Linked DNA regions of Homo sapiens. The protein of the gene in region 1 interacts with the protein of each later gene in a biochemical or structural test. Each region holds a gene or a part of one and is shown on either strand. Other genes may lie near its edges.

What was found. The genes of interacting proteins can lie anywhere in the genome.
Region 2: the proteins of GPX7 (region 1) and CPEB2 form a complex in vitro, tested with the Homo sapiens proteins (one study listed by BioGRID).

The regions. Positions count from the first base shown.
Region 1 is NC_000001.11:52,605,357-52,609,572, forward strand, and holds the end of GPX7 (glutathione peroxidase 7 precursor), read left to right. Parts: intron 1-1,327; coding exon 1,328-1,589; intron 1,590-2,905; coding exon 2,906-3,069; 3' UTR 3,070-3,695; downstream 3,696-4,216. UniProt on the Homo sapiens protein: It protects esophageal epithelia from hydrogen peroxide-induced oxidative stress. It suppresses acidic bile acid-induced reactive oxygen species (ROS) and protects against oxidative DNA damage and double-strand breaks.
Region 2 is NC_000004.12:15,054,448-15,061,482, reverse strand, and holds part of CPEB2 (cytoplasmic polyadenylation element-binding protein 2), read right to left. Parts: intron 3,063-7,035; coding exon 2,944-3,062; intron 2,297-2,943; coding exon 2,182-2,296; intron 1-2,181. UniProt on the Homo sapiens protein: May play a role in translational regulation of stored mRNAs in transcriptionally inactive haploid spermatids. Binds to poly(U) RNA oligomers. Required for cell cycle progression, specifically for the transition from metaphase to anaphase.

The DNA.
Region 1 (4,216 bases):
GGAGACATTGTTGATTGTCAAGACTGGGCATCTAGTGGGTAGAGGCCAGGGATGCTGCCAAACATCTGATAATAAATAAACAGGACATCCCCCCGACAACAAAGAATTATCTGACCCAAATGTCAATTATGGAGGATAGGGCTAGGCTGCCTAGGCACCGGCTAGGGTTTTAAATCCATTAATAATATATACCTAGAAGCTAAAAACATAGCATTTGAGCCAAAATTCTAATCAAAGTCTTATAATCAAGTTCCATTAGCCAGCTTTGTATTTATTGCCTAAAGGCTTTAATAAATTTAAGGATTAGTCTAATGATAAAAGAAAGTGGTAGGCTGGGCATGGTGGTTCATGACTGTAATCCTAGCACTTTGAGAGGCTTAGCTGGTAGGATTGCCTGAGGCTAAGAGTTTTTGAGTCCAGCCTGGACAACATGGCGAGAACTGTCTCTACCAAAAGTAAAAATTAAAAAATTAGCCAGGTGTGATGGCACGTGCCTGTAGTCCTAGCTATTTGAGAGGCTGAGGTGGGAGGATCACTTCAGCTCAGAAGTTTGAGACTGCAAACGGTTGGGGGGATGTCCTGTTATGATTATGCCATTGCTCCAGCAGCAACAACAACAAAAGTGGTGTTAGTTCTCTGGAGAGGAGGGGGACAAAAAGGTGATTGCCCTGGAGTTATGAGGGTTCTTTTCTCAAGAAAACCTGTGTCTATGTTCCCATGCAGGCGTTTGTGTTTGTGTGCACACTTACTCATTCATCTGAAACTTACTGAGACTTTTTCATATGCCAGGCCCAGAGATGAAGTGGACATAGCTCCTGCCCTCAGTAGGTTCACATTCTAGAAGGGAGACTGACACAGTGCAGAGTGGCGAGTGCTAGCTGACTGAGCCAAAAATTGAGCCCAGGTCTCCCTTTGTACCCCCTCTTATCAGTTCTCAGTATGTGCTCACCAGTATGTGTGCCCCAGTCTGTGGATGTGCTGTGTGTGTGGGCATGTGTGGTGTTTGCTAACATGTTTGTATCGTGGTGCATGTGCATACCTATTTATGTATGTTGTATACTTATGTTCACAGATGTTCATGTATGTGTGCACACATCTGTAAGCTCCTGAATGTTTGATTTCATATGTGCCTGTCTGTGTGCATGTGTTTGTGTATGTGTGAGAGCACTGGACACACATTTACATATGTGTACACAGTGTTCTTGTATGTGTGAGGCAGTATTAACTGTTGAGGGAGTCACATATGTGGATGTGTCAGGGCATGTACAGGTTCATGCCTCTTCACTGGCTTGTCTGGGCTTTGTTTTGTTTTGTTTCTGTCATACAGGTGTCCCTGGTGGTGAATGTGGCCAGCGAGTGCGGCTTCACAGACCAGCACTACCGAGCCCTGCAGCAGCTGCAGCGAGACCTGGGCCCCCACCACTTTAACGTGCTCGCCTTCCCCTGCAACCAGTTTGGCCAACAGGAGCCTGACAGCAACAAGGAGATTGAGAGCTTTGCCCGCCGCACCTACAGTGTCTCATTCCCCATGTTTAGCAAGATTGCAGTCACCGGTACTGGTGCCCATCCTGCCTTCAAGTACCTGGCCCGTAAGTCCTGGTCTCTTCATCCCCTCACACCTCCCTTAGCTGGCTGAGGCCATGGCTCCCTGGGCAGCAGAAGCCACTGGCTGGTTGGGTGACCTGGGGCCCCTTCCCCTTCCTGATCATCTCAGGTGGACTGATGCTTTGTTCCAGCACTAATCTTTGAGGAGAGTGGAGGCAGGTAGAAGCTGAGGGGTATTCCTGCCTAAGAATATCTCCATACCTGCTGCCTCTCACTTGTCCCTCAGAAGTCACTCTTTTGGACTTTTCTGGGATCCTGTTTTCACATTCAGGGGCTCCTAGAAGGAGACATTTAAGTCAGTGTGAACTAGATGAGTTTATGGACATATGATGGAGAAACCAAGGCATAGACAGGGGAGGCCACCTGCTTGGAGAAAGCTGACCAAGATAGTAGACAGGCATCTTCACCCTGAGTCAGTGGCGGAGTCTGTAGGCCATGGAGGGAGACCTTCTAAGCTAAAATACCAGATCTTAGTATTTGAGAACAAGATCCCTTCTCCAGCTGCAGAAGCCTCAGAGCCACAGAATGGGCTCATGGGCTAAGCTTGCCATTCTGACCATTTCTTCCCTCAGGCCTTCTCCTCTGGAGGCCCCATTTTTGCCTTTTCTGATTCCGTGCTTCTGGTGGCCTTTGTATCCCTTGCCACCACCCCACCCTGCAACCCATTCACCTGGAGGAGTAAATGAGAAGCAAGAGTGCAGCAAACAAAAGGTCCCTTACTGCGGCAGGTTTGTGTTTTGCTCTGTGGCTCAGTCCTAATGTTGATTTTTTTCTCTGTGTTCTTTTATTAGTTCCTTCCCAGTTCTCACAGTTATAGATCAAACCCGGCCTTGCTTTTAGAAGCACCTGGGGAGCTCTTAAAAATGCACAAGGCTGAGACCTACTGAAGCAGGGCCCAAGAATCTTTATTTTAAGCACTCCCCTGACCCCCAGTGATTCTGATGAAACCAGTCCATGGACTAACATTTGGAAACCATTAAAACTGAACTAGAGAATAGGGTGTAGACTATTCAGTAGTTCGAAGTCATTAATAAAGGAGGATTTGATACCACTTTATCAAGCACGTCACAGAATCCTACAGCAGTCGTTCTCAACCTCGGCCCCACTTTGGAATCTCCCAGGGGGCTTTTGAAAAATGCTGATGCCTGAGCCTCACCCTCAGAGATTCTGGTTGGAGTGGTCTGGGGTGTGGACTGGGCATCAGGATTAGCTGCCACCAGGGAAAGATGGACACTGAGAGTGAAGTCCCAGGAGAGGGTACGCAGGGTAGCACGCTTTGCTCTCCTTCCTTTTTCTCTAGAGACTTCTGGGAAGGAGCCCACCTGGAACTTCTGGAAGTACCTAGTAGCCCCAGATGGAAAGGTGGTAGGGGCTTGGGACCCAACTGTGTCAGTGGAGGAGGTCAGACCCCAGATCACAGCGCTCGTGAGGAAGCTCATCCTACTGAAGCGAGAAGACTTATAACCACCGCGTCTCCTCCTCCACCACCTCATCCCGCCCACCTGTGTGGGGCTGACCAATGCAAACTCAAATGGTGCTTCAAAGGGAGAGACCCACTGACTCTCCTTCCTTTACTCTTATGCCATTGGTCCCATCATTCTTGTGGGGGAAAAATTCTAGTATTTTGATTATTTGAATCTTACAGCAACAAATAGGAACTCCTGGCCAATGAGAGCTCTTGACCAGTGAATCACCAGCCGATACGAACGTCTTGCCAACAAAAATGTGTGGCAAATAGAAGTATATCAAGCAATAATCTCCCACCCAAGGCTTCTGTAAACTGGGACCAATGATTACCTCATAGGGCTGTTGTGAGGATTAGGATGAAATACCTGTGAAAGTGCCTAGGCAGTGCCAGCCAAATAGGAGGCATTCAATGAACATTTTTTGCATATAAACCAAAAAATAACTTGTTATCAATAAAAACTTGCATCCAACATGAATTTCCAGCCGATGATAATCCAGGCCAAAGGTTTAGTTGTTGTTATTTCCTCTGTATTATTTTCTTCATTACAAAAGAAATGCAAGTTCATTGTAACAATCCAAACAATACCTCACGATATAAAATAAAAATGAAAGTATCCTCCTCATTTTCCATAGTCTCCCTCCCTAGAGGTAAACAGTGTTAGCAGTTTGGTACAAAGGCTGCCAGGCCTTTGGTTAAGCCAATCATTATTGCCCAATAAGAACTCAGTGACCGGGCACGGTAGCTCACGCCTGTCATCCCAGCACTTTGGGAGGCCAACGTAGGTGGATCACCTGAGGTCAAGAGTTTGAGACCAGCCTGGCCAACATGGTGAAAACCCATCTCTACTAAAAATACAAAAATTAGGCTGGGCGCGGTGGCTCACGCTTGTAATCCCAGCACTTTGGGAGGCCAAGGCGGGCGGATCACGAGGTCAGGAGATCGAGACCAACCTCGCTAATACGGTGAAACCCCGTCTCTACTAAAAATACAAAAAATTAGCCGGGCGTGGTGGCGGGCGCTTGTAGTCCCAGCTACTCTGGAGGCTGAGGCAGGAGAATGGTGTGAACCCGGGAGGCGGAGCTTGCAGTGAGCAGAGATCGTGCCACTGCACTCCAGCCTGTGCACTCTAGCCTGGGCGACAGA
Region 2 (7,035 bases), on another chromosome or scaffold:
ATGGTCAATCTATCTGTAAGTAGCATTGAACACAATTAATCCCTTCCTTCTCATTCAAATATTTTCTCCATCTGGCTTCTAGAATATATTATCCCACTAATTCTGCTCCTACCTCACTGATACATTTCTTCTGAGTCTTCCTTGATAGTTCATCCTAAACGCCTTAACTTTTCAATGTCAGAGTACCCTAACTTTCAATCCTTGCAACACTATCTACACTCCTGGCTTTGGTACCTTCATCCTGTATCATAGCTTTAAACACCATCTATATGTTTTTAAGCTCCTACATTTTTATCTCTAGTGTGGACCTCTCCCATGGATGCCAGACTTGTACATGCAACTGTCTACTGGACAACTCGATATTTAACAGGCACTGGCCACACTCGGTATATTAAAAATGGAACTCATAATCTTCCCTTATCCCATTAAACCTGCTCCAATGAGTTTCTGCTGACCCAGTTAGAAAGCAACAGAAAAGATGAAGTTGTCAAGATCTTTGGCTTCATTCTTTCTGTATTCTTCCCTTGCTCCATACTGCACATGCAATCCTGTAAACTTGATTTTAAAACATATCTAGAGTCCAATTGCCTCACCTCCATCACTAACATCCTGATTCATGCTAACATCATTTTTCATCTGGTTCATGGCAATAACCTTATCTCTCTTTGCTTTTGGCCCTTGCCTTCCCAGCTTTTTAAAACAGTATAAAGAGTGATTCTCTTAAAAAATACACCAGATACCACCATAAAAATACATAAAAAAATATACCATATACCATGGTTTAATTGAAATTTCTATTTGGGAGCTCTGAATGGTGCCATAAACTTGTGTTCAAAACCAAGACCACAATCTTCCCTCCCTATCTGCTCCTTCTCCAGTTTTCCTTCCATCTCAGTAAAAGGCATCACTATCCACCCAGTGGCTTATGACTGAAAGATGAGATTCAGTCTTTGTGTCTACCTCATAAACATCTGTCACCTCTGTTCAGTTGGCTTTCTCCACTGCTACCACTAATCCAAGCCACCATTGTCTATCTCCTGGATTGTAATAATAGGATGTTAAACTGGTCTGCCCGCATTTACTCTCACCCTGGCCCCCCTCTCTCTGAATCATTAGCTAAAGTGAACTTTGAAAACTGCAAAGATAATGAAGTCTCTCTTTTGCTTAAAAACTCTTCAATGGTTTACCCTTGCTCTGAGAATAAATACCGAGTTAGTCTATTAGACTTGTATGATTTGACCCCTTCCCTCACTCCTTGTATCCCAAGTCAGGCACTTTGGGCTTCTTTCAGTTCCTTCAAAGCACCCTGTTTCCCTCCACTCAAGACCTTTAAATAAGCTGTTCCCTTTCTGTGAAACACATTCCTCAGAACCCTGCTACCACCCTGATCCTACTCCTTTTGCCCAGTCTTTATATGTCAGCTCAACTACAAATACCTTCAAGATATCAGACTTCAAATACCTTCAAGATATCAGATATCATATTTCCTTGCTACATGCTCTTCTGTTCCCTATAGTACTTCTTTGTAGAAGTCATCATATTCTATAAGTATTTCCATGTATGAATAGTTCTTTAACATATATCTCTATGACTGGGGAGACGATGTTCTCAGTGATGGAAATCACTAACACTCTACACATGGTGCACAGTACCATCTAACAAGTGCAAAGTGGGCATATACATCTACAATTATATTCCTCTGTGACATATTTTGGTAGGTTTTTGGTTCCTAGTTATTGATAAACAGAAGTTTATCATCATTCACTTATCTAAAGTGCTACTTTAATGATTAAAATATAGATAAAAGAGAAAAAAATCCCATATTTCTTTTTCAGATATCAGAATCGATCTACACAAAATAAACAGACCCCAAATTCTCTTATCTCAGAGAGGTACACTTAGGAAATCGGAAGTATTTAGGTGGATTCTTATAGATTTGCTTTGAGTTAGCTACTGCACTAATATTGATAGATAAGTACCCAATTCTCCAGTTGGAGAGTTTCAAGAGGGGGCCTCAGAATTTGTTTCAAAATTCTGTAGTTAGCAGCAATTGGTGCATGCAGAATCTGCTCCTGCTCTGTCCAATAGTGTCATGTACACAATAGCTTCCAAACGTTTATTAAATTGACTAGGACATATTTAAATGATTTTTTTAAACAAAATTGTTAACATTCTACTTACCAGCCCTTAATGGCCTAGGAACACCTCCAACAAAAATTGTTTTTCGGGGATCCAAAGGCTGAGAACCATCCATTACAAAATCACTATCACTTAAATTCCAAGGACGTATTTGAACCTATGAAGAAAATTACATTGGGTCTTACTCCCTTGATGTCTTATGAGAATTTTCTGTTTGTTTGTTTTTGCCAGTTAATAGTGATTCTTTTATTGCTTAAAAATTTGTATAGTGGGATCTGGAAACAAATTATTTTTATAACTTTTGTTGATCTAGATACTATAAATCCGCAGTCTCTGACCTTTTTGGCACCAGGGACCAATTTTGAGGAAGACAGTTTTTCTAAGGATGGAGGTGGTGGAGGATGGTTTCGAGATCAAAGTGTTCCACCTCAGATCATCAGGCATTAGATTCTCATAAAGAACATGCAACCTAGATCACTCGCACGTGCAGTTCACAATAGGGTTCGCATTCCTATGAGAATAGAGTGCCATCTCTGATCTGACAGGAGGCAGAGCTCAGGCAGTAATGCTGGCTTGCCTGCCACTCATCTCCTGCTGTGTGGCCTGGTTCCTAAAAGATCATGGACCACCAGTACTGGTCCACTGCCCAGGGGTTGGGGACTCCTGCTATAAATTATCTGGATGTTTCAAAAACTAAAACTCAACATGGTAGTTTAATTGTTCTTTTATTAATTAACAATCATTTCAAAACAATTTTTGAAAAATTTGCATTTGTAGCCTGAAGTTCATGTGGTATTTACTTACTGGTTTGTCCTTGATAGTAGGGCTAGAAACACACAGATAGAGTTTTCCATCTTCTTCAATACAAGCATCAATGAGTGCCTGAACTGAGCTCTCTTCTTGAAAGAGAAGAAATGCATAGCCTGGAATAACCATTAAAGATGAGGCAATATGTCAAGCCAAGTGATTTTACTCCAAATTTCAGTACTATTTAGAAAATACATGCTTTTGAAAAAAAAAAACAAACTATCAAATAGGATGAAAAACCATTTACCTTCTACAAGAGAACACAATATCTTATGTAATACACATTAAAACAGATACTCAGTAAAGCAATTGGCTACTTTATATAGAACACTTGCTATCAGATACTGTATTAACTTACATGCATTAGTATTTGATTCTCAAAAGTCTATGAAATATTATTCCTGTTTTACAGAAGAAAAAAATCAAAGTACCACCAAAGTCAGTCTCATAGTAAATGGTTGAATAATTTCAAACCGAGGTCAGCCCCAAGGTCTCCCATGCGCTTTCTAGTAGTGATACTACCTTCTTAAAGAGCTTGGCAGAATTAACCAGGTGAGTATATCTGGAGCTAGAGTTTGCTATAAATGCCCTCAGGTTAATCCAAGTTCTAGACTTTTAGACTGGAACGCACTTGGAAAGGTCCAGGAAATCCCCTAAGCAGAGGAAACATTCCACAGTCTCATGAAAACTTCCCAATGATACTAAGAAAGCTACAGTAGGAAGGCTGGAATGAAACATGTTCCTTAATAAAACATGGGTCAGATGGATCAAAACTTTTAAATCAAGCCTCAACTTGGAAAGCAGTGGAATACATTTTTCAAACTGTCTGGAGACTATCTAGACTTGTAAACAACCAATTGTCAATCTTTAATAAAAAATCATGTATCCAGCAGACAGAATAGACTACATTATAAAAAGAAGGCATCAAAATTTACACTGCAAGTTTACTATTATGTGATTATTCCCAGCAGGTGATAGCTATAAATGATCTATCCATTACCTTGGCAAGATTTCTATGCGAACAAATGTACAGCATTTTAATCTAGTCCCAGTACAAAGCAGACATCAGGCAAGCCATGTATGTCTGTTCCATCGTATAATGGGAAATGTAAGGTCATGTTTTACTGAAGTCAGAAAACTCAGCTTATTGTCAACCATAGCTTTATGCCACAAAAGTCTGATGTGACACTAAAGTACTTCATTTTAATAAAATAAAAATACCTGTTTGCATAAAAAATACCTGGAGCCATTTCACCTTATATAAATGATTTCACCCTATATAAATACAAACTTCCAAAGGTAAGATTACACAGGATTAAAAAACATGTCTTAGATTTTTTACACTGCTGGAAACAATTTCAATATTCTTGAAAATAATGAAGATTTTTTTAAGGCTTTAATTTTGATACAAAATAATAATCTGGGAACTACAAGTATTTTGTAATAATTAAAAGGATATAAGACCAATTTACTAAAATAGTATATTAAATTCAATATTTTAATGTTGGCCAATTTTCATAATTTTTGATATTAATATTTTAATATTGCTTAATTTAAAGTAATACTCTAAATTCAATATCTTTAATATTGCTCAATTTTTGTTATTATTAGGGAATGTTTATATTACAAAAATTAAGCCATATCAGGTAAATTATGACTTACCTGATGCAAGTCATTAGATATTAAAATATTCTTAACAAAAACATACTACATAATAGCTTCTTTCGAATTTGTTAAAGCAAGCTAATAATCACTTAAGGTGAAGGTTATTCACTGCAAAGGAAACTTACGTACATGTGTGGCTTAGCATCTAAGGGACTCTAGTCACTGCTGTAATTACAAGGTAGCTTCACCCACTGGATGCTTCTATACCAGTGTTTTCCAAACCATGGAAAATGCTGAATTACAGAAATAATAAAATTGCTTGAAAGAACAAGGTTTGGGGATACTGGTCTTTGGAAATGTCTACATTTAACTGTAATTGTACCAAAAAAACTATGATTTGCCAGTGCCAATTTTATTTTTTCGATTAGAGAAACTAAATACTGCAAAACCACAATAACGATAGCAACAATACCAATAAAGACAACAACTATTCTGTTTCATTAAATATGTTCCATCCCATCTTTCTAGGCTTAAAGTACACCATCCTTGTAAGTGAACAAGTAGCTCATGCAAAAATCTGCATCTTTCTCCATCCAAACAATTTCTAATTCCTTTTTAAAATTCTATTTCCATTCCTGCCTGGAACGCTGTTCAAGTGCTTTTTATCTATCTATATACAATACCTTAGATTAATTCCAAACCTCTCAGTGAAGCTTTCCCCCATCTACTTGAAGTAATTTCTCCACCCTATAGTATTTTTTGTTATCTCATTTATTAGGCAGTTAACAATCCGTGAATTATTGAGAATATGAACATTCACAAAGGTGAATAAAGACACTATTTTACAGACCATTGAAAGAAACTGACATTAATAAAATAATTACAAATGTTTAAAGTTGTAAAAATGTAATACTGCAACTGTGATGAGTGCTAGGAGTGAAAGACACAGACAGCACTAGGAGTTGGGCAGGAGGAACTGACCTCATTTGGTAGATCCTCAATGTTTTCTGTGATCAACTTACACTTAAGCTTGAGATACAAAAGATAAGTAGGGAATATATAAAGAGACCTAAGGAAGAGATACAATCAGTCTAGAGAGTATCATACATAAAAGCACTGAGGCTGGAGAGAACAAGGCCAGTTTGTGGGACTGGAAGGAAACAAGCAGCAATAGTAGAAGAAGCTAGAAAGAAGGCAAGGCCAGGCAGAAGGAATGCATTTTTGCTTTTATCCTAAAAATAAGAGAAACCATTAAAGGGTTTATGCAGGTAAGTAAGGAATAGCACCATCCAATGAGTTTTCAAAGACTGCTGTGACTGGACGATAGGAGAAAACTGAAGAGGGCTAGAGATGTGGAGAGACTAGAAAGACAGCTGAAGCAGTCCAGGCAAGTGATGATGGTAGCTTAGTCGGGAACATTACAAAATAACTCAATACTCTTGAGTATTCAATAAAAATGGCATTTATAAAGTAAACTTTATGAAATGGCAAGAGAGTAAAACTATGGACAACACTAAAACTAAGCTAATAAATAAACATCTCTATCTATGTGGAGATAATTTCCTGTCTATACCAAGGTTTTGTGACCTCCAATGAACTCCAGACTACATGGAGAGAGGTAGATAGCTTTAATCAGATTCTCATAGAGGCCTGGGATCCAGAATCCCTACTCAAAAGATGCTCTTGATTCCCTACATACATATAGAATCTGCAAGTATTAAAAAAACATTGCATTACTCCATTTATCTAAAAAACTATGTGAACTATTAGTGAAGGTTCTATAATTCTCAATGGCAGAAAGTAGATATGACTCATATAATTCATCACCAGAAACCTGTACCTAGTTTTTATGTGCTAATAACTTCTTTATCATGCTTCATTTCCCAGAGTCAAAATCAAACCATTTAACAGTTCTATTGGGGTCTTTTCTCCAGGCTTGACAATTCACTAAGTCATGAAACTGAATAGTATGTGTGGTGTGCTTTTTCTAAAATTATATTTCAGCAATGTTTAAAGTAAAGTCTTAATCTTTGAACCTCCCCTCTTTTTTTTATTCATTTCAGAGAACCTTCCATTAGCAATTCTGACTAGCTGAATTAATGTTCAAGACTCCTTTCTCCTCTCTTCCTCTTGTTATTGGGGGCAGGATATACTTCCTCTCCCCACAGATGGTGACTTGATCATGCGACTTGCATGTGAAGGTTAGCACAATTTGTAATTCTTGTCCTGTGGTGATCAGCCACGGTGTCTTCCTAGCAATAACTGACTAACATAACTAAGCATCTTCCTCAAGTTTTACATCTTTATATAATTGAAAAAAAAAATAGACCCAACTAGCTACTTTGTCTTTTATCTAAATTATTTATTCATCAACAGTTGGTAATAATTTCTACTGCTCTGCTGTTATCTAGAACATTTAATGTAAATCTGATATTTCAACTGTTCATAAATTTATATTTTATGAAAGACCAATCACTTCACATA